Regions from separate parts of the Homo sapiens genome. Here region 2 is linked to region 1. Evidence: fine-mapped expression QTL. A gene starts in region 1. The other region holds a variant in brackets. All regions are shown on one strand. Distances are between the middles of the regions.

The links. PIP is the estimated chance that this variant, and not a neighbour inherited with it, causes the effect.
Region 2: its variant is the best candidate, but not a certain one, in a credible set for the expression of FAXDC2 in whole blood (INTERVAL, PIP 0.75).

The regions. Positions count from the first base shown.
Region 1 is chr5:154,843,823-154,859,452 of GRCh38, reverse strand. It overlaps FAXDC2 (fatty acid hydroxylase domain containing 2), which reads left to right and starts at 8,850. Exons shown (of 9, transcript NM_032385.5): 1 at 8,850-8,970. It overlaps CNOT8 (CCR4-NOT transcription complex subunit 8), which reads right to left and starts at 826. Exons shown (of 7, transcript NM_001301073.2): 1 at 685-826. RefSeq lists enhancers at 1-20, 524-1,026, 982-1,151, 1,027-1,530, 1,531-2,032 and silencers at 562-621, 682-781.
Region 2 is chr5:154,885,595-154,901,224 of GRCh38, reverse strand. GEMIN5 (gem nuclear organelle associated protein 5) reads left to right here. Exons shown (of 28, transcript NM_015465.5): 22 at 1,915-2,034; 23 at 2,575-2,785; 24 at 4,882-5,133; 25 at 8,676-8,838; 26 at 9,483-9,984; 27 at 11,808-11,904; 28 at 12,848-13,814. The coding sequence ends at 13,015. Among named protein-coding and RNA genes, the nearest start is that of CNOT8, 35 kb to the right of the region's middle. The variant G/A (reference allele first, on the strand shown) is at 6,428.

The DNA of each region.
Region 1 (15,630 bases):
TCAAACTTCTTAAAACCACCCGAATGGCCCAGGTCTGTGAGTTGGCTCCTCCATTCATAAAGCCATAGAACACCAAGAAAAAGTTATGGGGCCGCAAGAACTAAGGAAGAGGCGGCGATTTAGAAGGGGGAGGCCCGCAAGATTCCAAATTCAGGTCCTCCTCCCCACTACTCCGTCTCCCATCATCATTCTCTTCTCGTTTATCATCATCCTTCCACTTCAAATCACACTCAGTCCTCCTCCTTCTGACACGCCATTCTTCTTCTGTTTTTGTTTGGTAAAGCAAAGTTAAAATTACGGGCCTTAGGACTAAGATAACTAAGTTCGAAGCCAGGCCAGGCCACGTAGTAGTCGTGTGTCCTTGCATAAGCCACTTAATCTATTTCGTGCCTCGGTTTTCCTATCTTGTAAAATGGGTTTGATAACAGTACGCACCTCGGAGGATTGGAGTAGAAGTTAAAATGAAGCATATGAGATGCTTTGTAAAGTCCCCGCACATATTACTCGAATATTATCGTGTGACGGTGGCCATTATTATTACTACTCTTTGCTGGGGTTCCTCTCCTCCTCACACACCCTGCCCCTTACACACGCCCCCACTCCCCTTCCCCCTACAGACCCCCAATGGTCTCTCACACTCTTTCATCTTACGCTCCTCTTTCCGGTAAGCGCAGGCCCGCTTACCGGGACCGACAGGGCCCGCGAAGCGCTGGCTGGCGGGCTGACGAGCTGGCGGGCTGGCGGGCTGACTCCCCGACGGCGGCGACGGCAGCCCCTGGCCCGGAGCTCTTTTCCCTCTACCCCGGATCTGCTCCTAGAACCGAACGAGCCAGTGAGGTGAGCGCCCCCGTGCCCAGAGCGGTCTTACGTGCCTCCCACCAAACAACCGGACGGCACCACTCTACCCACCCGATCCGCCCGACTCGCCTGCTCTCTAGAGTCACTCCAGACGCGCGCGCGCGCCTGGTCACGCCCGCTCCTCCCCCTTTGCGCGCCCCTGCGACTCCGTGCGTGTTCGCTCTGCCTGTGAGGTCGCGGGAAGCAGCGCGCAGGAGCAGAAGTAACAGGGTGCCGCCGAATAGGTGGGGAGTGGAGGCCTGGAAGCACGCTTGCGGAAGACGGCCCGCCTGCGGCCCTCTTCGCGTGATTAGTTGCGCTCGCTCAATTTAATCATGATTCTTACTCCTCCATTTTGGTCCTCTTTCCGAGCGAACAAGGAAGGGGCGTGGTCTAGAACTAGCGCCCCCCCCCACCCCCCCGCCGTGGGCGCGGCCTGGAAAAATCCAAAGGCCGAGGAAAGGGCGTGGCCCTTCGAACAAACCCCTCGAATTACCACGCCCCCTCCTCCTGGCTTTGAAGGACCGTTAAAATCGTTGGCACGAAGGGATTTGTGAAGAGGCTGACGGAGAAAGAGGCTGTCGCGACTTTCTGTTCTAACATGGCCCCGTAGATGTCTCACAAAGCATCTATCCTACGGTTCCTTTCTGGCAAACAATTAGTTGGGGGTGGGGCGGCTCCCCAAAGCCGAATGTGGGTGACGTCCGCCAAGGCCCGCCTACCTCCCGGCCTCACCGAGCAGAGCGAGGAACATTGCCATAGCAACTGGCCCGCCAGGGTCTGCTCGAGTTACAAAGAGGACGGCGCCTCCCGTGGGCACGGCGCCTGGCCAGCGCAGGCGTCGCCGGGCTCTTCAGAGCTCCAAAATCTTTGCGGACGCGCAGGGAGCTCGCCAGATTTTAGTGTCGAGACCCACGGGCTCAGGCCTCGCCCAGGAGCTTCTGAGGCCCCTCTGCCAGCCCCTTGGTTCCCTCTTAATCCTGCTTGAAGAGAGGGCTCTTGACCGACGCCGGCCCTGGGCAGCGTGTGGCCAGCTGGGGCGCGCCTCCGCCTCGTGTTCTCCGCGGTGGGAGAGCAGACAAAGCGCCCGCTTCCTGCACACAGTGTCGGCGGCGGGCCGCCCTCAGCCACTCCCGCCAGCGCTCCACCCCTGTTCCCGAGAGGACGTGGGGGCTGCCCCAAGCACGGTTCTAGTTCTTGTCCCAGATGCTTGTACTTGAGAGGCTGTTGATAAGAAAACGGCAAATGTACCCCTAGTGACGAGGAGAGGGGCTTCTACTATTCACTTTGCACTTTTAAACATTTCCCCCTAAGGGGATTCTCCAAAATCCTCCAATTCCTAGGCTGGATGCCGAGCTGGCCTTGAGCGGCAATTTCAAACGGGATTCCCAAAAGCTGTTCTCCAGGGAGGTGAACTAGCTCCAGCCTCCAGGATAAGAGCATCAAATGCACTTTCTGAACTCCAGTCCTCCTCTTCTCCCCCCCAAATGAGTGTCTAGCTCCTTATCTGCAAAATTAGGTTACGAATGGCTGTCGTGAGCTTGTGAAGATTAAATAGTTAATAATTGGAAAAACACCCCGCACCGAGGAAGATATAAAAGAGCGTTCAATAAATGGCATGTCTCAGTTTGCTCTCCCTAAAACAGTCGATTTGGGGCCGGGATTGGTGGCTCACTGAGCCTGTAATCCCAGCACTTGGGGAGGCCAAGGCAGGCGGATCACCTGAGGTCAGGAGTTCAACACCAGCCTGGCCAACATGGCAAAACCCTGTCTCTACTAAATAATACAAAAATTAGCTGGGCGTGGTGGAGGGCACCTGTAATCCCAGCTACTCCGGAGGCTGAGGCAGGGAGAATTGCTTGAATCCAGGAGGCGGAGGTTACAGTGAGCCTAGATCGTGCCACTGCACTCCAGCCTGGGCGACACAGCAAGACTCCCTCTCAAAAAATAAAAAAATAAACAGTGATTCCGTTGAGGGATACACTGATAAAGAAGGCAGGCAAGTGCCCCATCCCCCAGTCAGTTCTATGGGTTTCTTTTTTTTTTTTTTTTTTTTTTTTTTTTGAGACTGAGTCTCGCTCTGTCACCCAGCCTGGAGTGCAGTGGCGCGATCTCGGCTCACTGCAAGCTCCGCCTCCCGGGTTCACGCCATTCTCCTGCCTCAGCCTCCCGAGCAGCTGGGACTACAGGCGCCCGCCACCATGCCCGGCTAATTTTTTTCTCTTTTTTTAGTAGAGACGGGGTTTCACCCTGTTAGCCAGGATGGTCTCGATCTCCTGACCTCGTGGTCCGCCTGCCTCGGCCTCCCAAAGTGCTGGGATTACAGACCTGAACCACCGCGCCGGGCCAGTTCTGTGGGTTTCTAACGTGCTTTCTTCCACTTGTAATTTAGAGTCAGAAGAGGCTAGCGCTGACAGGCAGGCAGTAGTCACATGAAAAGCGGCCTCCCCAATCCTTTCTTGGAATTTTGTTTTTTCCTGTGGCACTGGGCCTGGTGTGTGCTAAAACAAACAGGAAACACCATGTCCAGCCTCACTACCACCCCTCACCCAGAATTGGGTGTTCGTTTCTCAAATTATTGAAAATAGATATAAAGCAAACAGATGGATTTTATTTTAGGAGAAGTTAGAGTGTTACTCTTTTTTTTTTTTTTTTTTTTGAGACAGAGTCTCGCTCTGTCGCCCAGGCTGGAGTGCAGTGGCGCAATCTTGGCTCACTGCAAGCTCCGGCTCCCGAGTTCACGCCTTTCTCCTGCCTCAGCCTCCCTAGTACCTGGGACTACAGGCGCCAGCCATCACGCCTGGCTAATTTTTTGTATTTTCTTTTAGTAGAGAAAGGGTTTCAATGTGTTGGCCAGGATGTTCTCGATCTCCTGACCTCGTCATCCTCCCGCCTTGGCATCCCAAAGTGCTGGGATTACAGGCCTGAGCCACCGCACCCGGCCTAGAGTGTTAACGTTTTGAACATTGGATATGATGCTGTACTCATGGATATCGCAAAATTAGAATAATTTTCCAGAAGTCACTGCTTCCCAGTCGGAAGGAAGCCCCTAATGAATGAGAGGGTAGTTGGAAAAGAATATATTCAGTTACATCATTTCATATTTGAGAAGAAAACTCTATTGCTTTTTGAGATGAGGGTCTTGCCACGTTATCCAGGCTGGTCTTGAATCCCTGGGCACCCAGCCTCAAGTAATCCTCCTCACTCAGCCTCCTGAGTGCCTGGGATTACAGGTGCATGCCGCTGCTCCTGGCCCCTATTGTTTTTGAGCTGCAAACTATAGAAAGTCAGGTTCGAACAAATCTCATTTGGGAGGGTATACGTTTTTGTTTTTTGTTGTTGTTGTTGTTGTTATTTTTCATTTTTTTTGAGACGGAGTATCGCTCTTGTTGCCCAGGCTGGAGTGCAATATCGCGATCTCGGCTCACCGCAACCTCTGCCTCCTGGGTTCAAGCGATTCTCCTGCCTCAGCCTCCGAGTAGCTGGGATTACGGGCATGCACCACCACACCCGACTGATTTTGTATTTTTAATAGAGACAGTTTCTCCATGTTGGTCAGGCTGGTCTCGAACTGCTGACCTCAGGTGATCTGCCCGCCTTGGCCTCCCAAAGTGCTGGGATTACAGGCCTGAGCCACCACGCCCAGCAGGAGAGTATAAGTTTAAGAAAATTGAGAAGGCCAGGCGCGGTGGCTCACGCCTGTAATCCCAGCACTTTGGGAGGCCAAGGCGGGCAGATCACGAGGTCAGAAGATCGAGACCATGCTGGCCAACATGGTGAAACCCCTGGATTAGCTGGGTGTGGTGGCACACGCCTGTAATCCCAGCTACTCGGGAGGCCGAGGCAGGAGAATTGCTTGAACCCGGGAGGTAGAGGTTGCAGTAAGCCAAGATCACGCCACCGCACTCCAACCTGGCGACAGAGAGAGACTCCATCTCAAAAAAATTAATAAATAAACAAAATTGAGAAACACTCGTTATAAAATGAATGGGACCCCTTAAGAACCACACAGCTGGCTGGGCGTGGTGGCTCACGCCTGTAATCCCAGCACTTTGGGAGGCCGAGGAAGGTGGATCACCTGAGGTCAGGAGTTCAAAACCACCCTGGCCAACAAGGTGAAACCCCGTCTTTACTAAAAATACAAAAATTAGCCGGGCATGATGGCAGGTGCCTGTAATCCTAGCTACTAAGGAGGCTGAGGCAAGACAGTCGCTTGAACCTGGGAGGTGGAGTTTGCAATGGACCAAGATCATGCCATTGCACTCCAGCCTGGGCAACAGAGCCAGACTCCATTTCAAACAAAAAAAAAGAAAAAAAGATAGGATGGAGAGAAAACCCAGGAAGGCTGGAGAGCTTCTCACTAGACAGATGCTCTTCTCTATAAGGCTTGCTCAGCAATCAACTATTTACTGAAGACCAGTGTTATTAGTGCCAGAGTTATTACTGCCATGGAAATACATAAAGACCCTATATGAAATGATTGTAGGAAAAAAAGTACCTGCTACTCCAGGGAGTGTTGACCACTTAAACTACAAAAGTTCAAGAAGAAAAGAATTAGGCCGGGCACAATGGCTCACACCTGTAATCTTAGCACTTTGGGAGGCTAAAGCACTTTGGGAGGCTGAGGCAGGAGGATCACTTGAGGCCAAGATTTTGGGACAAGGTTGGACAACATAGCAACACCCCATCTCTTAAAAAAAAAGAGAGAGAGAGAGAGAGAAAAGAACTGGAGGCACAATACTTGACAGGAACAGGAAGGAAATTCCAGGTGAGAGGATTAGCGTAAGCAAAGATATGGACATGGAGACAATAGGAAATAGGAAAAAAAGTTTCTGTACATCATAGTAAGTGAACAATAAATGTTTGCACATGACAGTGATGCTTGGCATTAGAAAGTAGGAAGGAGGCCAGGCACAGTGAATCATACCTGTAATCCAACAATTTGGGAGACTGAGGCAGGAGGATTGCTTGAGTCAGGAGTTCAAGACCAGCCTGGGCAACATAGCCAGACTCTGTCTCTCCAAAAATGTTTTTTTTTAATTAGTGGGGCATGGTGGTGTGTGCCTGTAGTCCAACTGCTTGGGAGGCTGAGGTGGGAGGATCACTTGAGGCCAGAAGGTTGAGACTGCAGTGAGCCATAGTTGAGCCACTGCACTCCAGCCTGGGTGACAGAGTGAAACCCTGTGTCTAAAGAAATTTTTTTTTTTTTTTTGAGGTGGAGTCTCGCCCTGTCGGTCGCCCAGGCTGGAGTGCAGTGGCGCAATCTCGGCTCACTGCAACCTCTGCCTCCTGGGTTCAAGCGATTCTCCTGCCTCAGCCTCCTGAGTAGCTGGGACTACAGGCGCCCGCCACCACGCCTGGCTAATTTTTGTACTTTTAGTAGAGACGGGTTTCACCGTGTTAGCCAGGATGGTCTCGATCTCCTGACCTCGTGATCCACCCGCCTCGGCCTCTCAAAGTGCTAGGATTACAGGCGTGAGCCACTGCGCCCGGCCAAGAAATTTTTAAAAATAGGCCAGGTGCAGTGGTTCATGCCTGTAACCTCAGAACTCTCACCTGAGGTCAGAGTTTGAGACCAGCCTGGCCAACATGGTGAAACCCTGAGTCTTCTAAAAATACAAAAAAAAAAAAAAAAAAAAAAAATTAGCCAGGCGTGGTAGCAGGCGCCTGTTGTAGTCCAAGCCACTCTGGAGGCTGAGGCAGGAGAATCGCTTAGAGGCAGGAGAATCGCTTAAACCCAGGAGGCGGAGGTTGCAGTGAGCCGAGATTGTGCTACTACACTCTAGCCTGGGCAACAGAATGAGACTCCATCTCAAAAATAAAAATAAAAAAATTAAAAAATAGAAAGTAGGAGGGAATAGGAAATAATATCATCTGAGAGGAGCCAAACTAAAGTGAGTCTTGGAAGTCTGGTAGCACAGGTTTGTTCAGTGCACAAGATAGACTTGGTCAGCTGGAAAATATAGACATTCTGCAATATCTGGAATATTGAAAAAAATTAGTATCTCTGAAAGGAGAGATGAGGAAAAACATGAACAAGTTGTACAAAATGTAATTAATTTGTGAGCAAGCATTGAATGTTTACTGAGCCCTTGCTTTGTGCAACGAATTAGGCAAGGAAAATGAGGAAGACATGGTCCTTTATTGGCCAAATAAAGTATGACACATCTATACAATGGGACGGGAGGCAGCCATTAAACAGAACATGGCAGCTCTTAAGGGTACTATATGGAGCAGTCTCCATGTTTTGTTGTTGACAGTTTTATTTATTTTAGAGACAGGGCCTCATTATGTTGCCCAGGCTGGTCTCTAACTCCTGGGCTTAAGAAATTCTCCTGCCAGGCCAGGCACGGTGGTGGCTCATGCCTGTAATCCCAGCACTTTGGGAGGCTGAGGTGGGCAGATTATGAGGTCAGGAGTTTAAGACCAGCCTGGCCAATATGGTGAAACCTCATCTCTACTAAAAAAAAAAAATACAAAAATTAGCCGGGCCTGGCAGCGCACACCTGTAGTCCCAGCTACTCGGGAGGCTGAGGCAGAAGAATCGCTTGAACCCAGGAGGCGGAGGTTGCAGTTAGCTGTGATCATGCCATTGCACTCCAGCCTGGGTGACAGAGCAAGACTCCATCTCAAAAAATAAAAAAAAGAAATCCTCCTGCCTCAGCCTTCCAAAGATTGCTGAGATTACAGGCATGAGCCACTGCACCCGGCATTTTTTATTTTGTTTTGTTTTTTAGAGACAGGGTCCCACTCTGTCACTCAGGTTGGAGTGCAGGGCACAATCATAGCTCACTGCAGCCTCCAACTCCTGGGCTCAAGCCATCCTCCCACCTCAGCCTCCCCAGTAGCTGGGATAACAGACATGTGCCAGTAAGCTCTACTAATTTTTTGTATATGTAGTAGAAATGGGGTTTTGCTACATTGCCCAGGCTGGTCTTGAACTCCTGGCCTCAAGTGATCCTCCCGTCTTGGTCTTCCAAAGTGCTGAGATTATACATGTGAGCCGCCGTGCCCAGCCAAGTTTCTGAGTTTTGTTTATTTTAGAAAGGAGTCTTCCTGTGCTGCCCAGGCTGGTCTCAAATACCTGGGCTCAAGTGATCCTCCAACCTCAGCCTCCCAAATAGTTGGGACTACAGGTGAGCACCACCATGCCTAGCCAATCTCCATGTTTGATTGTTAAGTGGAAAAAGCAAGGTGCACAACAAACATACTATGGTGCTGTTGCTAAAGGAGAAGCACAAGGCCTACACATGTTTCTATTTACAGAGGTAAGCTCTGGAAGGATATACAAAAATCTGGTCACAGAGGTTGTCTCTTGGGAGGAAAAAAAGGGGACTGAGGAGAAATTAAAAAAAGACTTTTCATTGTACATTCTTTTGACCCTATTGTATTTTATATCATTTGCACATTTGCTTATTTAAAAAGTTTTCAGAAATTTAAAAGCAGCTCTTTTTCCAAAGTGCTCCTCACTTCATGTCATGGGTCCTGTATCCTAAGTTCCCCTATTTCAATCACAGTGCAAATTTACCCTCCACAGGCATGCCTTTCCTGCATCTAGACTCACTAGAAATAGCTGATGCATCTCTCCTCCCTTGCCTGCCCTCCACAGGAAAAGAAGCAATGAAAAAAAAGAAAATGAGATCCTCTGGTCTCTGTCACCTTTTTATCAACTTGTACTACCTGCCATTATCTGACACCCACATCTTTTCTTGAATCTGCCTCCTCCTATGGGACAGCGACATTTTCTTAAGTTGCAGATGATGGAGAAAATTTTTTAAAAGAAAAAAAGGGGGCAGGGGGAGGGAAGCCCAGAGTTTGGCCAAATGCACGTTTTTCAAGTTCCTGCTTGAGCTTAGATTCCCTTTCCGCTTTAAGGACATGCCCTCTGGAAAGAAGGGTGTTTTGTTTCCAGCCCACACAGACCCAAACTTTTTTCATCACGTGCCTGGTCCGAGCCAGTACGCAGCTCTGTAATGAGATCACCATGGCCAGCCTCCCACCCGAGCAAAAACAAGGTTAGCCTGCAGCAGAGCCGCAGCAGCAACAGCCACCAAAGCGGGGGCTGAAAGGGAAGAGAACTTAGATTTGACCTGTGCAAGGACCTCAGCAGCTTGGACACAGCCCACTGCAGAGGTAAGTGGGAACTACGGGGGAGGGGTGGTGTTTGCAAAGGTCAGGACATGTCCAGGTTCACTTAAAGTAAGGGCAAAACAACACTCTTCCCACCTCTGCCACCACCCTGTCCTCTCTACTTATGGCAGGGTTAGATTTGCCTCTAAACAGGGTTAGATGGCAGGGTTAGAATTTGTCCTAGGACATTGCTGTAGTGCAGTCGCCTCCTTGTCTCTTACTAATGTCTGTATCCTCTGCCTGTGTTTGTACCATCTACCTCCTCAGTAGTCTAATTTTTCTAGCAATTGACAGGTGATTGTAATGGACAAGTAATTGTTTGACTTTAAAACCATTTGTAAAGGAGCAACTCCTAATTCAGAACTCAAATGAGAGGCAGAACAAACTGGAAGAGACTGTTGGGAAGCAACTGCTGCCTAATTGCTTCTCATCTCTACTCTGCCATCACCAGGAAGGTATGGGGCAAAATACAACAGTTTTAAAGTCTCTGGATAGATGTGTGGGCTATGAGCTAGACAAGTAGGTTGAAACTGTTTTGATGCAACATACTTGGATTTACCAACAGTGGCTCCAGTTGTGAAATCGTTAGTGGCTTGATAGTACCTATGGAAACACTCCACGAAGGTTATTGAGTAAAGGGCATACAGTAAAGTGTGTAGGTGGAGATGAACAATAGAACAGTGGCTTTCAGGACCTTCTGGGGCTTAAGGCAAGCAAGACAAGATGCTGATTTGTGGGTTGCTTCAGTTTCATGTGCAATTCCAATTAAATTTCTTTGAGTGGGATATACAGATTCAATTCAATTTGCTAAAACACAGATGCACTGAGCATCAGCTTCTAACTTTAGTTACGAAAGTAATTAGCACAAGGGAATGGTGCTAAAATGTTCCATAGCAAATGTTGAACACTTTTTGAGGGCAAAAAGCAATGCTTTTGATTCGTGTATCTCTTATTTATTCGGCAAATCTTTCTTGAGTATCTTCTACATGCCAGGCTTGGGCTTGATTCTGTGGATCTCGTGGTAAACAAGACAGGCAGATTCTCGGCCTCATGGACATGCAATCAAGCAGAACAGTAAGCTCAAAGGGTGCAAGTACCATGCAGCAAAAGGAGTGAAGAGAGTATTACTAAAACTGGCCCATGGGAATCATTTTTAACCTTTCCTTTCATGCATTTCATCTTCTGTTTTTGTTTTTTTTGTTTTTTGAGATGGAATCTCGTTCTGTCACCCAGGCTGGAGTACAGTGGCGCGATTTCAGCTCACTGCAACCTCCACCTCCTGGGTTCAAGAGATTCTCCTGCCTCAGCCCCCCAAGTAGCTGGGATTACAGGTGCCCGCCACCACACCCAGCTAATTTTCGTATTTTTAGTAGAGATGGGGTTTCACCATGTTGGCCAGGCTGGTCTCCAACTCCTGACCTCAGGTGATCTACCCACCTCGGCCTCCCAAAGTTATGAGATTACAGGCATAAGCCAACGTGCCCAGCCGCATTTCATCTTTGTTTTTTTTTGTTTTTTTGAGACAGACTCTTGCTCTGGCGCCCAGGCTGGAGTGCAGTGGCATGATCTTGGCTCACTGCAACCTCCGCCTCCCAGGTTCAAGCGATTCTCCTGTCTCAGCCTCCAGAGCAGCTGGGATTACAGGCGTGCACCACCACACCCGGCTAATTTTTATATTTTTAGTAGAGACGGAGTTTCGCCATGTTGGCCAGGCTGGTCTCAAACTCCTGACCTCAGGTGATCTGCCCACCTCGGCCTCCCAAAGTGCTGGGATTACAGATGCGAGCCACCGCTCCTGGCCGCATTTCATCTTCTTAAATGAATATCGGCCACTCTATCTTCTATATAAGCCTCAGATTAGTACAGATGTTGAGTCATAGCAGCTCCTCAAAACCCTCTTCACCAGAGGCTTTAAACTGTGTAATTACATTACAGGTCAGTCTCCTCAGCCCTGGAGGTCGACTGCTCAGCTTTTTCCTAGCATACAGTCTGAGAGCAGAGGCTGAAGTAAGGGGAGTTCTAATCTTTGGGTCAGTTGCCCTCTCCCTGTGTCATTTCTTATGAAATAGAAGTTATGCTATTCCCAAAATACATACAGCACTAGGCAAAGTGTTAAGAAGCCTAGATTTTGCCAGAAACCATGTGGAGTTTGGAGCAAGTCATTTCTACTAACTAGGGCTTCCTCCTTAGCTTATAAAATGGAAGGGGTAGACCAGATGAACATGAGGTCTTTTTTCTCCCCCCTCTAAGAGTAAATTGTCTCAACAATTTTACAAGTTGTTTACAAAACAATACACATTCACATAAAGGTGATGTATTTATATCTATAAAATAGGAACATTCAGTAGGCCGGGCATGGTGGCTCACGCCTGTAATCCCAGCACATTGGGAGGCCGAGGCGGGCGGATCACAAGGTCAGAAGATCAAGACCATCCTGGCTAACATGGTGAAACCCTGTCTCTACTAAAAATACAAAAAATTAGCCAGGCGTGGTGGCAGGCACCTGTGGTCCCAGCTACTCGGGAGGCTGAGGCAGGAGAATGGCATGAACCCGGGAGATGGAGCTTGCAGTGAGCCAAGATCGCGCCACTGCACTCCAGCCTGGGTGACAGAGCAAGACTCTGTCTCAAAAAAAAAAGGAACATTCATCAATCATGCAGAATATCCAGGAAACAAGAATATGAAAGAAAATCTGGGCCAGGCGCAGTGGCTCATGCCTGTAATTCCAGCACTTTGGGAGGCCAAGGTGGGTGTATCACCTGAGGTCAGGAGTTCAAGACCAGCCTGGCCAACATGGTGAAACCCCGTCTCTACTAAAAATAAAAAAATTAGCCAGGCATGGTGGGGGTGGGTGCCTGTAATCCCAGCTACTTAGGAGGCTGAGGCAGGAGAATCGCTTGAACCCGGGAGGCAGAGGCTGCAGTGAGCCAAGGTCATGCCATTGCACTCCAGCCTGCGCAACATGAGCGAGACTCCATCTCAAAAAAAAAAAAAAAAAGAAAGAAAGAAAGAAAAAAGAAAATCTGAAAGAGTTGGGCTGTAGACAAATAAAATTCAAGATTAAACCGTCTGTATTCCTTCCAGCCTCACCTTATTCCCATGTCCTTTACTCAGATTCTTGAAGTTGTAAACATTAGCTATAGCTTCACTGTGTCATTTATCTAGATTGGGGATTCTTTAATAAAAAGCCTGCATACTGAGAATCATCTGCTTTCAACAAAACCACATAGGCAGGGCAGAGTGGCTCATGCCTGGAATCCCAGCACTTTGGGAGACCAAGATCACTTAAGCCCAGGAGTCCAAGACCAGCTTGGGCAACATAGGGAGACCCCATGTTTACAAAAATTTTTTAAAAATTCGCCGGCATGGTGGCACAGACCTGTAGTCCCAGTTACTCAGGGGACTGAGGTGGGAGGATCACCTGAGCATAGAAGATTGAGGCTGCAGTGAGCTATGATTGAGCCATTGTACTTCAGTCTCGGCAACAGAGCAAGATGCTATCTCTAAAAAATAAAAATAAATAAAATCCTTGGTTCACACTAAAAAAAAAACAAACAAAAAACCAGAACCACACTAAAAAGTATCTAATTTGCTACTAGGGAGGCTGAGGCAGGAGGATCACCTGACCCCAGGAAGTCGAGGCTGCAGTGAATCATGATTGGGTCATTGCACTCCAGCCTGGACAGAGTGAAACTCTGTCTCAAAATAAATAAATAAATAAAATTTGGATAAACTCACAATAGAATATCAAATTCACTTTAAGGAAGTATCCATTCATTGTTGTAAAATATTAGAACCTTCGGCCAGGCATGGTGGCTCATGCCTGTAATCCTAACACTTTGGGAGGCTGAGGTGGGAACATCACTTGAGCCCAGGAGTTTGAGACCAGCCTGGGCAAAATAGTGAGACCCCATCTCTAAAAATTAAAAAAATAAATGTTTAAAAAATATTTACTTTTAGTACACTTCATTTCTTTCTGTCCTCTGAATGCATTCCATTCTAAAATAAGTATGCTATTATCCTCCTACTTTCTCTGGAAAATCAAAGTTATACGATGTTATAAAATAGGGCAAAAAGCATGTCTTATTCATCTTTCTATCCCATGTCTAGCATTGTCTCTGGCATCTGATAAATGTTTCTTGAAAGAATGATTAGTATTTTAGAGAAAACGTGTCCTTTGGTATTAACACACACACACACACACACACACACACACTATCTAGTTCACTATTCATGGCTAATATAGGCCAATCTCATGCTTTTGTGTCCCTTTCAATCCCTGACACTCACCCTGTGCTCTTCAACATCAATGTATTCTATACTTTTGTAGTCTCAGTTGGTATAATGAGCACTGAATTCAAGTTCTGCCACTAATATGTGTCCAGGCTGGGCGTGGTGGCTCACGCTTGTAATCCCAGCACTTTGGGAGGCCGAGGCAGGCAGATGATGAGGTCAGGAGATCGAGACCATCCTGGCCAACATGGTGAAACCCCGTCTCTACTAAAAAAAAATATATATATATATATACAAAAATTAGCTGGGTGTGGTGACGCATGCCTGTAATCCCAGCTACTCAGGAGGCTGAAGCAGGAGAATCGCTTGAACCCGGGAGGCAGAGGTTGCAGTGAGCCGAGATCACGCCACTGCACTCCAGCCTGGCAACAGAGTAAGATTCCATCTAAAAAAAAAAAAAAAATAGGTGTCCAACTTGAAGCCAAATACTAAATACCTCTGCACCTCTGTTTCTTCAGTTGGAAAATGGGGGCATCTGAATAGATGAGCTCTAATACAACTTCCAGTTTGTTTTTTTTTGTTTGCTTGTTTTTTGTTTTGTTTTTTGAGAGTCTTCCTCTGTGGCCCAGGCTGCAGCATGAGCCACCACACCTGGCTAATTTTTTTTATATTAATACTTTGTGGATATAGGGCCTGTGTTTCCCAGGCTGACTCAAGCAATCCTCCCGCTTCAGCCTCTCAAAGTGCTGGGATGATAGGCATGAGACACCATGCCCAGTCCAACTTCCAGTTCTTAAGACGGCACACTCCAAAAGGAAGAAAAAAAGAATTAGTCAAGTCACAGAAAGTAATGACTATGGTACTTCAGTGTATTAGTAAATGTTGTTGCTAGTTTTATTTGCCAAAATTTCTAACTTGAACACTATCATTAGCAAACAATGTTAAGGAGCTTCTTTGGGTGAAGACCCACTGCCTACCATGTTTGAGGTCTCCCCTAGAACCTTTCTGACTGACCATGTTCATGTAAAACTGAAAACATGTCTGCAGGCGGGCAGAGAGGCACAGAAAGCAAGCTGCTTTGGCATAACATATTCAGCAGAACAATACAATTGGAGGACTCAGTACCTAGATAAGTATCTCTGGAAATTGCATATGGCCATATTGGCGTAACTAAAGAATAAATGACATGTCAGGAAATGCTTTGTTTGTTCTAATGAAATGAGATGTCAACAGATAAATGCTGCTGCTCTTACAGCCGAGAAGCCTTCTCACCACCAGAAAGTAAGCAATCATTTTCCCTTTGGCCAGAAGGTGTACGTAGAGCAGAGGAGTCCAGTGTCAAACATACTTATCAGCCCCTAATCACTCAGTCTCAGCAATACGCAGTTTCCATAACATGGACACAGTGGGCATGATCAGCACTCTGCCCTGTAGAGTGAACCAGAGCTGTCTTCTTCCAGAGCCAAGATCTTATTGTACTGACAGTCATCCTAGTTCCTCTTGGTTTTTGTTTTTAATTTCAATATCTGATTCTGTTTATTTATACTTTATACCCAGCCTATATGTCAAAAGGGTTTGAGGTAGTTTCCAATAAAAGGATATATAGAACAGCTTCAAATAAATAAAAACTGATAAGAAACCATCAGACAATAACCTAAATCATTTTGGTGGGGAAGGTGTGATTTGTAGAGAAAATAAACAGGTGCTTTAAAAAGAGGGAAAAATGGATTGTCCAATTTTCTTTGCACACCATAAGAAAGCATACCACTTCTTCCAGAGAGGCAAAACTTCTGTGCACTTATTTCTGTTTTGGTCTTTATCTGACTCAGTCTCTATATGTACTTGTTTCTTTTTCTTTTTTTTTTTTTTTGGAGGCAGGGTCTTGCTCTGTCATCCAGGCAGGAGTGCAGTGGTGCAATCACAGCTCATTGCAACCTCCACCTCCCCAGCTCAAGTGATCGTCCCACCTAATCTTTTTAATTTTTTGTAGGGACAGGGTCTCACTATGTTTTCCAGGCTGGTCTTTTTTTTTTTTGAGACAGAGTCTCACTCTGTTGCCTAGGCTGGAGTGCAGTGGCGCAATCTCGACTCACTACAGACTCCACCTCCTGGGTTCAAGCAATTTTCCTGTCTCAGCCTCCTGGTAGCTGGGATTACAGGCACCCGCCACCATGCCCAGCTAATTTTTGTATTTTTAGTAGAGGTAGGGTTTTGCCATGTTGGCCAGGCTGGTCTTGAACTCCTGACCTCAAACGATCCACCCACCTCAGCCTCCCAAAGTGCTGGGATTACAGGCATGAGCCACTGCACCCGACCCAAGACTGGTCTTGAACTCCTGGGCTTAAGCAATCCTCCTGCCTCAGCCTCCCAAAGTGCTGGGATTATAGGCATGAGCCACTGTGCCTGGCCAAACTTATTTCTTTATTGGAA
Region 2 (15,630 bases), 42 kb before region 1:
TGAGTAACTGGGACTACTCAGGAGGTGCATGCCACCACATCCAACTAATTTTTTAGTTTTTTGTAGAGACGGAGTCTTGCTGTGTTGTCCAAGCTGATTGCCAACTCCTGGGCTCAAGCGATCCTCGTGCCTCAGCCTCCCAAAGTGCTGGGATTACAGGCATGAGCCACCATGCTTGGCCAAGATTTTCTTTTTGTTCTACCCTGCTTTGGTTTTGTTATCTTCCTTTAGAGAGTGTTAAACTTTGTTTTGGTAAGTAGTAAAGTTGTGTATCAGCTTGATCTTTTCATGGCTTGTTTTTAAACTTCGTTAGGGCAAGTTTATCATATTCTAGAATTACCTCCTACATTTTGATATCTTTCTTGAATGCCTTATGCATTCAACAAATCAAAACTCAGATGTCTCCAAGTCCTGAGTAAGCTCTGGGAATTGTTCAGCTTACAGTTACCTAGTCATTCTTTGTTTAGACTTAAGGAGTTTCCTTTACATACGTGGCTTTTAATTTAGCCAAAGACTCAATGGGATCTCCAGGCAGAGTTGTGGATGTCTTTCTCTGGACAGCTTCCTCCTTCCTAGTATCCTGCCCCTCAGATTTCCATTGTTTCCTCTTCTCAACTCAGAGACTGCTGAGGTTTTGCTCAGGTTTTCCTTAGGAAAATGGCTTTGGGCAGAAAGCCAGTGCCAAGATAGGGCTCCCATCATTTGTTTCTGTTCTCTTAGGGCTGACCATCCTATGCTGCCTGTTACCTGGTATCTAAAAACAGTTGTTTCAGCCATTTTGTCCAGTTTTTTAGTTTTATGGCAGAAAGGTAAGTCTGGTCCCAGTTACTCCATCATGGCTGGAAGTAGAAGTCCCAAAATACTTTCAAAATATTGCTCTCTCTAGATCACTTTAATCTAATAAAACACTTTTTTCCCAGCTACAACTTTATGTTGGCTACAACTCAGCAGTTGTATGTCATTTGAAAAATATTTGTTTACTGAGTTGTTCAGATCTTCCAAATGTTAACATATCTTATTATAAAATACCCAAAAATACCACATTCCTTACTATCACCATCAGTCTCATCAGAAAATTCTAACTTATGGGAAACTCAGGCACACAAGTGGTAGGTACAAGTTTTCTAAAATTCTAATTTTTGCTAGAAAACTCGCATTTTATCATTAGTAACAAATACTGTTGGTTGTTTTTAATGAAGTGATAGGCCTACTTTGTTCATTTTTGAGAAAAACATCTGCCAAATACCCAACACTGAATAACTGTTATTTATGTTAGTCATTTTTTTTTTTTTTAGAAGAAAGAAGGTTCTATGAAAAAGCAGCCAGTTTAGCTTGTAATTTGTTCATACAGGTGTTACCTAGAGACAACCATTCTACTTTGGAATGCAGCAGAGAACACAAAATGTTCTTCCCATTTGTCACACAGAATATTAAAGTGTTTTGGACTTGACGGATTTAGTAAAATTTGTAATTTTTACTGCTTCATTAAGGGCATTCTTCCTTTTTTTCCACTGTAAGAGCCACCGCCTTCCTTCTTAGATGCCAGGTTTCCCAATCACTGCTTTGGCACAATCAGTGCAAATGTCAACACATTTTTTTTTTTTTAATAAAAAAGCACATAACTGACTCTTAGCATTGTTACGAAAATAGTTTTAACCTCATGAACCCTCTGAAAGGTTCTTGAGGACCCCCTAGGAATCCACAGACCACAATTTAAGAACTGCTGATCTAAGTGAAGAAACGAATGCAGCATATGTTTCTAATTTGTCTATATAATGCAAGTGCAGTTTTTAAAGGAAGTTGGAACAATAAGACAACACAAAAGGGACAGTTTGTCCTGTCTTACAGCCCCTCCTAGGACCATACACAGAGGAGCCTTTTCAGATTGGCTAAAGGGTCTGTTCTTGCCTTTAGGGAAGCTATTGCGATTGCCAAGGCCCGGCTGCGCCCGGAGGACCCAGTCCTGAAGGACTTGTACCTCAGCTGGGGAACCGTCCTAGAAAGAGATGGCCACTATGCTGTAGCTGCCAAATGGTAAGCCTGAGGAGTGGAGGGATGCTTCCAACATAGGAGAGCTTCTGCCAGGAAGGGGAGGACAAGAATACAAGTAATAAGTTTAGAGGTGGAGGTAAAGCAGCAAGGAATTATTTAAAAGATATGTATATTCAACTTAGTTTCATAAGACTCATCAGGAACTACTTCCTGATTTATTTATATAAATCACTATAACTATTCAAGAAAAACCTCAGCAGCAGATTAAGAAATTATGCATTTTTCTAATGGTCTCTTATAACATCAAATAAAGGAACCTCAACCCATGCTGGATTGAACCCAACAGAGGAGTCATTCCCTCTCATTTTCCTTATGTCCTTAACCTATATGATATTGTTTCTCATACACTCTGCTGAGTTGTGTTGGCCTCAGCCTTCACAGGAACAACCGGGGCAGTGACATACCTGGGACCACAGGAAGGCACATGCAGCAAAGTAGATAGAAAGAAATGATTCCATCCTCTAGGAATGGGAATAAAAATCTGTTTGTGACATTTTCTTCACATTTTTATTCATATTATAGCTATTTAGGGGCCACTTGTGCTTATGATGCAGCCAAAGTTTTGGCCAAAAAGGGGGATGCGGCATCACTTAGAACGGCTGCAGAGTTGGCTGCCATCGTAGGAGAGGATGAGTTGTCTGCTTCCCTGGCTCTCAGATGTGCCCAAGAGCTGCTTCTGGCCAACAACTGGGTGGGAGCCCAGGAAGCCCTGCAGCTGCATGAAAGTCTACAGGTCAGTCTGTTATTTCATCTCCTAGTATACAAGAGGGAAGTGTCCCAAATCCTTTTCTAGTCAAATCCAAGTTAATAACCCAGTTGCACAAGCTGTGCCAATTTGGCAGGCCCAGCAAGCCCTGGCCATGCTATCCCACTGAAGTACTATGACTTGTTAGTTGCCGTATTCAGAGTAAGAGATAATATGGTCATTCACAGTAATTCCCATTGCTTATCTGTTTGTACAAAACACCTGTGAGCCGGGCACAGTGGCTCATGCCTGTAATCCCAGCACTTTGGGAGGCCGAGGCAGGCAGATCACTTGAGGTCAGGAGTTTGAGACAAGCCTGGACAACATGGTGAAACCCCGTTTCAACTAAAAATACAAAAATTAGCCGAGCGTGGTGGCACGCTTCTGTAATCCTAGCTTACTTGGGAGGCTGAGGCAGGAGAATCACTTGAACCCGGAAGGCGGAGGTTGCAGCGAGCCAAGATCCAGCCTGGGCAACATAGTGGGACTCTGTCTCAAAAAAAAAAAAAAAAACACAAAAAAAAACACCTTAGTCAGCCCAGGCCTTGGGTTGGCAGTCTAGGGTTTCTTCATTGATGTTATCAGCACTGTCTTCCTTGAAGAGAGAATGGTTGGCCTCTAACAGAAATCATGGAACTCTACCTGTAAATGCCCCTCTTAACTGTAAGCTATGGAAAAAAAACTGGGCCAGATGCAGCAGATCGCTTGAGATTAGGAGTTCAAGACCAGCCTGGCCAACATGGCGAAATCTTGTCTCTACTAAAAATAAAAAAATTAGCCAGGCATGGTGGCACACATCTGTAATTTGGCTACTTGAGAGGCTAAGGCAGGAGAATTGCTTGAACCCAGGAGGCAGAGGTTGCAATGAACCAAGATTGTGTCACTGCACTGCAGCCTACGTGACAGAGTGAGACTCTTCAGAAAAAAAAGAGAAAAGTGTGGGAAAATGGAAATCTCTTTATTTCTTAAATTTTTTTGTTCCCATCTGATTAAAAATCAGTAACATACCACTGCCTTTTTGACACATCAAAACAGATTAAAGCATTGGCACACTTACCTAGTTTCTGAAACATGTAAACATTTGATTCACTTTAGATAACTTTGTGAGATACTAACAAGAGGTTTTTTAAGTTCTTCATTCTCTAACAGAGTACAGGGCCTACAGATGGTTTTTAGCTGAATATTTAGAGCCCAAGGAACGTGGTACATGGGGAGGTAGCTTTCTAGGAACAGCAGAATAAAAATGGAGGTGAAAATAGGACACCCTAAAAGATAATGCCACTGGGCATTATTTATAAAATGACCAAGTCTAGAAAGATTTTAATTTATCCACCATCAAAAAAAGTTTCCAGAATGACTGTTTAGCATTTTATTTTTCTCTTAAACAGCATCCTTAACAAAGCAAAAAAACCTAATAAGCATATGCTAAATATTCTGATAAGGGCTATTTTGGTTTTGTGCAACAGAGACTCTTGCAAGCTTAACTGAGAAGATATTGTTATAGGAGTACACAAGGAATCTCATGGCAACTAAAAATCTAGTGAAAGTAGATTTTCTAGGCCTTCTCTGTGCTTCTGTTTTCTTCTCTCCCAGCCAGCTTCCTCTATTAAACCTATTTGGACATGGCTCCTAATGCCTGTCCCAGCTCTTGGATCTGCAAAGCTTGTCTATTCCAGCACCTTTGGCCCATTATGCTTTTATTCCTGAGTCCAAAGTTTGGTCAGGGAGAAAGAACCTGATGAGCCCAGCCCTTCTTTTCCTCAAACTAGGCTACAAGGCTTAAGTGGCTGGTCTGTGTGTGGCTTAAATCATTGTGGGTAGTGCTACAGTTGGGATTCTGTGTTATAAAAATGGTTTCTTGAGCTCTAAGGATAGATTTCCCCCAAAAGGGACCTGGGAAGTGTCTGTCAGATCGCCCCTTTTGTCTCTTTTCATGCATGACTCATATGGGGCAGGTAGCTCACTAATGTGCTTTGGTTGCTGCAGATACAAAGGGAAATACTTTGAAGGACACGGGAGAGCTCTCGAGATCATCCAGTGCTTTCCCTGTATAACAGTTCCTCTTCCTTGTTGTCGTGTTCCAGGGTCAGAGATTGGTGTTTTGCCTTCTGGAGCTACTGTCCAGGCATCTGGAGGAAAAGCAGCTTTCAGAGGGCAAAAGCTCCTCCTCTTACCACACTTGGAACACGGGCACCGAAGGGCCTTTCGTGGAGAGGGTGACTGCAGTGTGGAAGAGCATCTTCAGCCTTGACACCCCTGAGCAGTATCAGGAAGCCTTTCAGAAGCTGCAGAACATCAAGTACCCATCTGCTACAAATAACACACCTGCCAAACAGGTAAGCCATCTGTACCAGCATTTGACATTAATCACTCAGTGGTAAGACTTCCTTAATCCATGTCTATTGTAACGGGGAAACAAGCAGAATACTGGACTGTGTTTCAGAAAAGGCTAAGGCATGGCCACGCCACCTGGAAAGATCCCTTTAGACTAATCAAAGCCCTTTAACTTTAAAGTTAGTATTAGATCAGTATTCCCTTTTTTGTTTTGTTTTTTTTAGTTGTTTGAAGCTGGAGTGCAGTGGCATGATCTTGGCTCACTGCAGCCGCCACCTCCCAGATTCAAGTGATTCTCCCGCCTCAGACTCCTAAGAGCTGTGATTACAGGCGTGCGCCACCACGCCCAGCCACTATTTCCTTTTCTAAAAAAGTAAAATAAAAAGTCTAGAAAATATAGAAAAGCAGAATAATGTAATAACCCATCAACCAGAATTAACAGATGTTCACATTTTGTCATTTTTACTTTGTAGGGTTTTCTGGTTTCATTTTGTATTTTGATTTGAGGACTTTATAAAATAAAAACAGTAGGGCAAAGTTGAAGTCCTTCTTGTTCCTTTCCTCAGCCCTTCACTCCTTCCCTAGCTCGCCACAGGCACCTCCTGTGTCAGTGCCACATGTATTGTTTTGCTGTTTGCTTATTTCAGAGGCCATTGTTTGTAAAATCTATCCATGTTGATAAAAAGAGATCAGTTGATTTATTTTAACTGCTATGTCTGCCTTGTGAATATACCTACTTCTTTTTTTTTTTTTTTTTCCTTTCTGGAGACTGGGTCTCACTGTTACCCAGGCTGGTCTCGAATTCCTCAAGTGATCCTCCCGCCTCAGCCTCCCAAAGTACTGGGATTACAGGCATGAGCCACTGTGCCTGGCGTAGTTCTTTCCCTCATTTCAAAATGAGGGAACATTATGATATTTATGAGGAACAAGGCTTCTCAAATGGTATATACTTTGAAAAACAATTGGACAGTTTCTTTTTTTCTTTTCTTTTTTCCTTTTCTTTTCTTTCTTTTTGAGGCGGAATTTCACTCTTGTTGCTCAGGCTGGAGTACAGTGGCATGATATCTGCTCACTGCAACCTCCGCCTCCCAGGTTCAAGCAATTCTCCTGCCTCAGCCTTCCAAGTAGCTGGGATTACAGGCATGTGCCACCACGCCCAGCTAATATTTTTACTTTTTTTTTTTTTTTAGATGGAGTCTCACTCTGTCACCCGGGCTGGAGTACAGTGGCATGATCTTGGCTCACTGCAATCTCCGCCTCCCAGGTTCAAGCAATTCTCTTGCCTCAGCCTCCCGG[G/A]TAGCTGGGATTACAGGCACCTGCCACCATGCCCGGCTAATTTTTTGTATTTTTAGTAGAGACAGGGGTTTCACCATGTTGGCCAGGCTGGTCTCGAACTCCTGACCTCGTGATTTGCCCACTTCGGCCTCCCAAAGTGCTGGGATTATAGGCATGAGCCACTGCAGCCAGCCTATTTTTCAGATTTTTAGTAGAGACAGGGTTTCACCATGTTGGCCAGGCTGGTCTTGAACTTCTGACCTCATGTGATCCACCTGCCTCGGCCTCCCAAAGTGCTGTGATTACAAGTGTGAGCCATCACGCCTGGCCAGGCAGTTTCTTATAAAGTTAAACATGCACATGCCCCATGTCTCAGCAGTTCTGCTACCTAGATATTCCACTAAAACAATGAAATCAGATGGCCACACAAAGACTTGTACACAAATGTTTACAGCAGCTTAGTGCACAGTAGCCAAAAACTAGAAACAACCCAAATGTCCATCAACTGATGAATGGATATGCAAACTGTGTTGTGTCTATGCAGTGAAATACTATACTGTTTAACAATAAAAAGGGCCAGTCTTGGTGGCTCACACCTGTAATCCCAGCACTTTGGGAGGCCAACGCGGGTGGATCGCTTGAGCTCAGGAGTTTGAGACCAGCCTGGGCAACATGGCAAAAACCTGTCTCTAGTAAAAATACAAAAATTAGCCGGGTGTGGTAGCACAAGCCTGTAATCCCAGGTACTAGGGTGGCTAAGGCAGGAGAATCATTCAAATCTGGGAGACGGAGGCTGCAGTGAGCCAAGATGGAACCACTGCACTACAGCCTGGGTAAGAGAATGAGACCCTGTCTCAAAAAAAGAAAGTAAAAAGGAACAAATTACTGCCACACAAATAATATCGGTGTTAGCCGCGCGTGGTGGCGGGCTCCTGTAGTCCCAGCCACTCTGGAGGCTGAGGCAAGAGAATGGTGTGAACCCAGGAGGCCAAGCTTACAGTGAGCCGAGATCGTGCCACTGCACTCCAGCCTGGGCGACAGAGCAAGACTCCATCTCAAAAAAACAAAGAAGAAGAAGAAGAATATCGGTGAATCTCAAAAGCTTTAAAGACACAAAAGACTATATACTCTGTGGTTCCATTTATATGAATTCTAGAAAAGAAAAAATTAAAGTGACAACCAGTTCAGTGGTTGCCAGTGGGGTGGGGCCAGGAGATCGCCTGCAGAGGAGCCGGAGGGCATATCTTCAGTTGATGAAAATGTTCTGTCTTGATTTTGCTGGTAGTGTTGTAACTATATATGTTTCTCAAACTACATACTTAAAATTGAGCACATTTTTCTTAGTTGTACTCCAAGCTTTGTTTTGTTTTGTTTTTGGTGGGTTTTGATTTTTTTTTTTTGAGACAGCGTCTCACTCTGTCACCCAGGCTCGGGTGTAGTGGCTTACTGCAACCTCCGCCTCTCGGGTTCAAGCAATTCTTCCGCCTCAGCCTCCCAAGTAGCTGGGATTACAGGCGTGCACCACCAAGCCCGGCTAATTTTTTTTTTTTTTTTTTTTTTTTTAGAGACGGGCTTTCACCTCGGGTGATCCGCCCGCCTCAGCCTCCCAAAGTGATGGGGTTATAGGTGTGAGCAACTGCACCCAGCCTTTATTTTGTTTTTAATTACAGCTTTTAGTTCCAGAAACTCACTTTTTGTTTTTGTTGTTTGTTTGTTTGTTTTGAGAGGGAGTCTCACTCTCATGCTCAGACTGGAGTGCAGTGGCGCAATCTCAGCTCACCACAACCTCCACCTTCCGGGTTCAAGCAATTCTTCTGTCTCAGCCTCCCGAGTAGCTGGGACTACAGGCACGCGCCATCATGCCTGGCTAATTTTTGTGTTTTTAGTAGAGGCGGGGTTTCACCATGTTGGCCAGGCTGGTCTTGAACTCCTGACCTTGTGATCTGCCCACCTTGGCCTCCCAAAGTGCTGGGATTACAGGCATGAGCCACCGCGCCTGGCCCACTTTTTGTTTTAATTAAATGCAAATGTAAAGGTGTTTTCTCAGTGTGAACAGACTTTAACACCGGGACGTGTGTGTGCTGCTGTGCAACTAGACATGAGAGTTTCCGATGTGGGAAGCAAAAATGGGTGGCGGAGACAAGAGGAACTTTCAAAGTGTGAATTGTGTGTACTTGTTTCCAAATGCGGTTCACAGGAACAGTTTGGTGGCATCCTCTGCGCCTACCGTGGGAGGATGTTTAACTCAGACTCTGGCTTCTCTCTCCAGCTCCTGCTTCACATTTGCCATGACTTGACCCTGGCAGTGCTGAGCCAACAGATGGCCTCCTGGGACGAGGCTGTGCAGGCGCTCCTTCGGGCGGTGGTCCGGAGCTATGACTCAGGGAGCTTCACCATCATGCAGGAAGTGTACTCAGCCTTTCTCCCTGACGGTAAGTGACTTCCTGCTGCCTGAGGCACACCCTTTAATGGACAACATCACCACCATTAGTGGTGTGGCACTGGGAGTACCTAGATTCTTAAAAGATGGAGATTGGCCAGCTGTGTCATTTTAGTAGAAAGTTTGGATTCTCTTACCGAAGCTTTTAAGAACAACTATACTGTTTCCTTTACCTGGCCCTACCCTCTTACAGCCTCCTGTCCACTTTCCACAAAGTTTAAGGGAGAGAGAAATAGGAATGTAGTTACATGTTAGTAAGAACAGAAAAGAACAGCAAAAAAGATAGACATTCCTTGGGCTGCATAGTCAGTCACTGAACTAAATCATTGTGATTTTTCAGAGAGACAGTGTGATCTGTTGTCGTGGCCCCAGAGCCTTCAGTAGTACAAATGGAATACTCTATCATGCTTTGAATGACTCCTAGGATGTAGTAATGAGAACACTGTCGCAAGCCAGGAAATGTTTAGCCTCCAGTTGGCTCTTGGTGGAAAGGCATGTGGCCCGGTGGATCACACTGTTGTCCTTTTTCCTGGGGTCTGCTTCTTGGTTGATAAGAAATAGAACATAAGGGCAGGAAGCCACATTTCTGGCAACTAGAGAAATGCATGACCCAGTATCTTTTTCCTCTTTTCCTAGGCTGTGACCACCTAAGAGACAAGTTGGGGGACCATCAATCCCCTGCCACACCAGCTTTCAAAAGTTTGGAGGCCTTTTTTCTTTATGGGCGTCTGTATGAATTCTGGTGGTCTCTCTCCAGACCTTGCCCAAATTCCAGTGTCTGGGTAAGGGCTGGTCACAGAACACTCTCTGTTGAGCCAAGCCAGCAGTTAGACACTGCCAGCACTGAAGAAACGGACCCTGAAACTTCTCAGCCAGAGCCAAACAGGCCTTCAGAACTAGACTTGAGACTCACAGAAGAAGGTGAGCGAATGCTGAGTACTTTTAAGGAGCTCTTTTCAGAAAAGCATGCCAGTCTCCAAAACTCACAGAGAACTGTTGCTGAAGTCCAAGAGACCTTGGCAGAAATGATCCGACAACACCAAAAGAGTCAACTCTGTAAATCCACAGCAAATGGTCCTGATAAGAATGAACCGGAAGTAGAAGCAGAGCAGCCCCTCTGCAGTTCTCAGAGCCAGTGGTAAGTACTGAGGCAAGTACAAGACGGAATGAAAAATGACCCTGCTGGCTAGGAACAGTGGTTCATGCCTATAATCCCAGCACTTTGGGAGGCTGAAGCAGGAGGATCACTTGGCCCAGGAGTTCACCACCAGCCCGGGCAAAAAAGCGAGACCCTGTCTCTACAAAAAAAAAAAAAAAAAAAAAGCCCGGGCACAGTGGATCACGCTTGTAATCCCAGCACTTTGGGAGGCCGAGGTGGGCAGATCACTTGAAGTAAGGAGTTTGAGACCAGCCTGGCCAACATGGTGAAACCCCGTCTCTACTAAAAATTAGCTGGGTATGGTGGCACATGCCTGTAATTCCAGCTACTTGGGGGGCTGAGGCCAGAGAATCGTTTGAACCTGGGCAGCAGAGGTTGCAGTGAGTCAAAATCGCACCAGTGCACTCCAGCCTGGGCAACAGAGGGAGACTTCATCTCAAAAAATACAAATAAAGTAACCAGGTGTGGTGGCATGTACCCTGTAGCTACTTAGGAGGCTGAGGCAGGAGGATCACTTGAGGCCAGGAGCTCAAGTTCAGCCTGGGCTACATATTGAGACCCTGTCTCTAGAAAAATTAATTTTTTTAAATTAGCCAGTAGTGGTGGCATGCACTTGTAGTCCCAGCTACTCAGGAGGCTGAGGTGGGAGGATCACTTAAGCCCAGGAGTTCGAGGCTGTAGTGAGATACGATCATGCCACTCATACCAGCCTGGTTGACAGACCCTGTCTCTACAAAAAAAAAAAAAAAAAATTAAATTTTAAGAAGCCAGGTGACAAAGGAATTTTATTTATAAAATGAGATAAAAGTAACCCAGGCAGGGGCATATGCTCTCAGGGCCTCCTGAGGGCTGTGTCATAGGCAAAAGTTTAAATTTTTAAAAAATATTAAAAATAAAAGGTAAAAGCTACCCAGGCATAACAAAAGATAATCCAATTCAAGGATGGGCAAAGGACTTGAATAGACATTTCTCTAAAAAGCCAGTAAGCACAGGAAATGATGCTCAACATCTCATCATTGGGGAAATGCAAATCAAAACTACAGTGAAGCAGCACTTCATAGCCATTAGGCTACTATCAGAGAAACAGAACAAGTGTTGAGGAGGATGCAGAGACATTGGAACCCTTGTGCCTATTGGTGGGAATGTAAAATGATGCAGCCACTGTGGAAAACAGTACAGCAGCACTTCCTCCAGAAATGTAAAATAGAATGACCATAGGATCCAGCACTTCCACATCTGGGTATACACCCAAAAGAATTGAAAGCAGGGTCTGAAATATGTGCACACCTGTGTTCATGGCAGCATTATTCATAATACCCAAAACACGGGAGCAACCTAAGTATCCACTGACAGATGAATGGATAAGCAAAATGTGCCATATCCATACAATGGAATGTCATTCAGCCTTACGAAGGGAGGACATCATGCTGAGTGAAATAAGCCAGTCACAAAAAGACATATACTATATGACTCCACTTATATGAACTACTCAAAATAGTTAAATTTATAGAGACAGAAAGTAGAATAATGTTGACAGGGGCTAAGGGAAGCAGAATGAGAAGTTAATGTTTAATGGGTATAAGATTTCAGTTTTACAAAATGACAAGAGTTTTTGGAAATGGGTGGTGGGGATGTTTTTCACCACATTATGAATTTATTTAAAATCACTGAACTATGTATTTTTAAATGGCTAAGATGGTAAGCTTTATGTTATATACATTTTACCACAGTAAAATAACAATGGGAGAAAAATGTTACCCAGGGCAAGACATACAATTTACACCTTTTATTTTTTTCACTAGTAAAGAAGAAAAAAATGAGCCACTTTCTCTGCCTGAGTTAACCAAAAGGCTTACCGAGGCAAATCAGAGAATGGCGAAATTTCCTGAGAGCATTAAGGTAAGAGTTAAAGCAGTTCATTTGGTAAAGCATCACTTTTTGTGTTATCACTTGACTATACCACATTCTTATAAAGGTCAGCTACCTCTCTGTTCAGTTTCTAAAATCTCTACCCATTCATATGTGCTTAAGAATTTAGAATCCAGGCTGGGCGTGGTGGCTCACGCCTGTAATCCCAGCGCTTTGGGAGGCTGAGGCTGGCGGATCATGAGGTCAGGAGATCAAGACCATCCTGGCTAACATGGTGAAACCCCGTCTCTACTAAAAATACAAAATATTAGCCGGGCGTGGGGGCAGGTGCCTGTAGTCCCAGTTACTCGGGAGGCTGAGGCAGGAGAATAGCATGGAGGCAGGAGAATGGCGTGAACTCAGGAGGCGGAGCTTGCAGTGAGCCAAGATCACGCCACTGCACTCCAGCCTGGGCAACAGAGCGAGACTCTGTCTCAAAAAAAAAACAAAACAAAAAAAAAGAATTTAGAATCCAATTACTTTGGTTAGCTAGAATGTTTTGTGAGACTAGAATTATCGATCACACAAGTAATTTTATACCTCAATCTTCAGAGAAACCAAATAGATTTAATAGGTAAGAAGTAAAATTTAAATTGGTGCCATGTATTAGATAGCTTACAGATGGACAGGTCTTTTTGGCTGTGGGCCCAAATATTAATAGAAGCACCATTTTTAAGGGTGGATTTGCATAGGGCTGTAGAAAGAGATTGTGCCATTGAGAAGGACATCGCAGTAGCCATCCTAGTTTTGAGTGTCATTTCTCCTTGGAGTAACTGTTGAAGAGAAAGACAGGACATTGCCTTAGGAGACAGCTGGCTCAGCTGTGTCCAAGAAGTGTCTATAGATGAACCTGAGTGACTGGTGCCTTCTGTGCAGGTGTTTGTGGCTCTTCTGCAAATGCTTCCTTATTCATCCTCATGTCATCGTCTTTCAGGCCTGGCCCTTCCCAGATGTGCTGGAGTGCTGCCTCGTCCTGCTTCTCATCAGGTCCCACTTTCCTGGCTGTCTGGCCCAGGAAATGCAGCAGCAGGCCCAAGAGCTCCTTCAGAAATACGGCAACACGAAAACTTACAGAAGACACTGCCAGACCTTCTGTATGTGAATTTTCACACACCTTGAAGAAACTGCCAAATTGAAAATGTTTGACATCTTTCACCTCTGCAGTTATGCCTCACCAGACATTCACTCTGGTCCCTAGATGTTTTTGCAGTAATCCAAAAGAATACAAACAAGGATTAAGTTTGAATCAACCCTGCCTACCCATAGACAACGGTGGATCTGACTTTAGACTCAATTGTGGTCTCCTACTGGAGGGAAGATCATGAAAAGCCCACAGTAGTTATTCAGAACTAACACCTGCAGAGTGTTGGTCATCTCTACAGCCTTAGGCAGGTTTCACCCAAAGAGGAGAAACTTCTGTCGTCACCCAAAGTGTTACATGCTTAAAACACAAGCTACCTTTGTAAATACTTCATCTGATCAGAAGTGTGTCATGCTTGTTTGAGATGGAGTTGCTGCATTTTAGGACTATTGATACCTTTTTTTAATTGTTTTTATAATATTTAATTTGAAAGAGGAGACCCTTCTCTCTCTACTCTTTCATAGACTGAAGTTTGAATATGAAATAGGCCTTAACCATCATGTTGACTCTCCTGTCAGAATTTTAGGTTGGAAATTTGGTTTTATTCTTTCATGTAATTGCTTATTTGAACAGATCACTTACTAAAGCTTTAGAAGAAGTGATTCAAATGTGTGTTTTCCCTTCAGTTTTATAACAAATGGATTGATGGCAGTCAAATAGCTCAGGAATAAATTACTGTTTCAATGGTTCTTAAACTTTCTTGGATCATAGGATCCTTTTGAGAATCAGATTAAAGCCAAAGATACTCTTTGGAGAAAAATGCATATTCCTAATTTTGCATAGATGACCTTTGGATTATTGGACTCTGACTATTGGGACCCTAAATACTATTTAATTATAAATCTTTTTTTTCTCCTCCTTGGTTATTTAAACAGTTGAACAGTGTCAGGAACAGATGTTTCTGTAATGTCACAGTTGCTAGCATGGGAAAATCAGAGTCTGGCATGGGTGTAGGAAGGAACACTCCTTTCAGATAATTGAACTGTTTTCTCTAGGATTCATTGTGAAGGCTTTTCTGCTCACGTTTGTAGTTTATTTTTCAATTAATTCCTAGGATTGGAGCTGTTGGGACAGTGAGAATGAAATTCATTTACAGGAAGTCCCAGGAAGGAGAAAGTTTGAGGCAGTTTTCAAAGACGTGTATGTGCCTAGCATTAGAGTTTAATAAACTCACAAAGGGAAATACTGTAGAATTTAGATCCTCACAGTTCTTCATACAGTGAAGTGAACTTTAGGAAGACGATGCTTTGTTACCAGGGATGGAGAATCTTTCTTGATTGCAAAGACATAAATAGGCATGGCTAGGTAGAAAACCTAGCCTAGTTGGTAGGACACCAGTTCTACCAACTGCTAAAATGAACTTTACTTACAGAGGTGGAAAAAATATATACTCCCTTCCACTTGAGTAAAGAGTGATATTGTTAAACTAGAATTCTAAATTCCTTTGTGATCTGTCAGAAGCATCACCTGTGGGTGGAGGAGTCCTGCACACTCCTCAGTTACTGCTTTGGTAAGAACAAGATTATCTATTTGAGTCCAGGCATGGTAGCTCATGCTTGTAATCCCAACACTTTGGGAAACCAAGGCAAGTGAATCACTTGAGGACAGGAGTTTGAGACCAGCTGGGCAGTATATATGGAGGCAGTATATATTTGAGACCAACATTTGGCAGTATATATGGAGGGGCTGAATTGCACTCAGTTGCCTGGTGCTATGGTGCACGCCTGTACTCTGGATACTGTGGAGGTTGAGGTGGGAGGATTGCTTGAGGCCAGGAGTTCAGGGCCAGCCTGTGCAACATAGCAAGCTCCCATCTCTATAAGTAATGAATAAACTTTTTAAAATGAATTATGGCCAGGCACAGTGGCTCACACCTGTAATCCTAGCACTTTGGGAGGCCAAGGCAGGCGGATCACCTGAGGTCAGGAGTTCGAAACCAGCCTGGCCAATATGGAGAAAACCCATCTCTACTAAAAATACAAAAATTAGCTGGGCATGGTGGCACATGTCTGTAATCCCAGTGTTGGAAATAAGAGCTCAGAGTCACAAAGAAAATGAGCACTCAAACAAAAGACTTCTCAGCAAGGCAAATTTACGTCCGCAGAAGGGTGCTGCTGCCTGCACCAGTCACAATCACAAGAGCACACTGAACAAAGGAGAGAAAGGTTTTTATCCCTAATGCAGCTTCTGTTTCTGTATCCTTTTCCCATTGGCTGGAGTCGGACCACACAATTTAAGCTAACCTGATTGGCTAAAACTTGAAATTTTTCCAAATAGGGTAGACAGGGAAGAAGGGGTAGGAGTGGTAAAACTTTTCCAAATAGGGTAAACTGAAACCTTTAAACACGTAACTTGTAAAGAAAGGTTGGGAGGGAGGGATTGTCCATTAAGGCATATTTGGGCATGTTTAGGCACAGCAAAGATGGAAAGTCTTGTTTAGAGAACAAGAATTTATCCTTTCTAGCAATGTGAAAGGACATTAGTTGCTAAAAGGAACAAGGAAGTTTGAAGAGGAACTGATGGTTTGGCAAATTTCCCCCTCTTGACTTGGTAGTTCTTCCTCGTCAAGTCTCCTT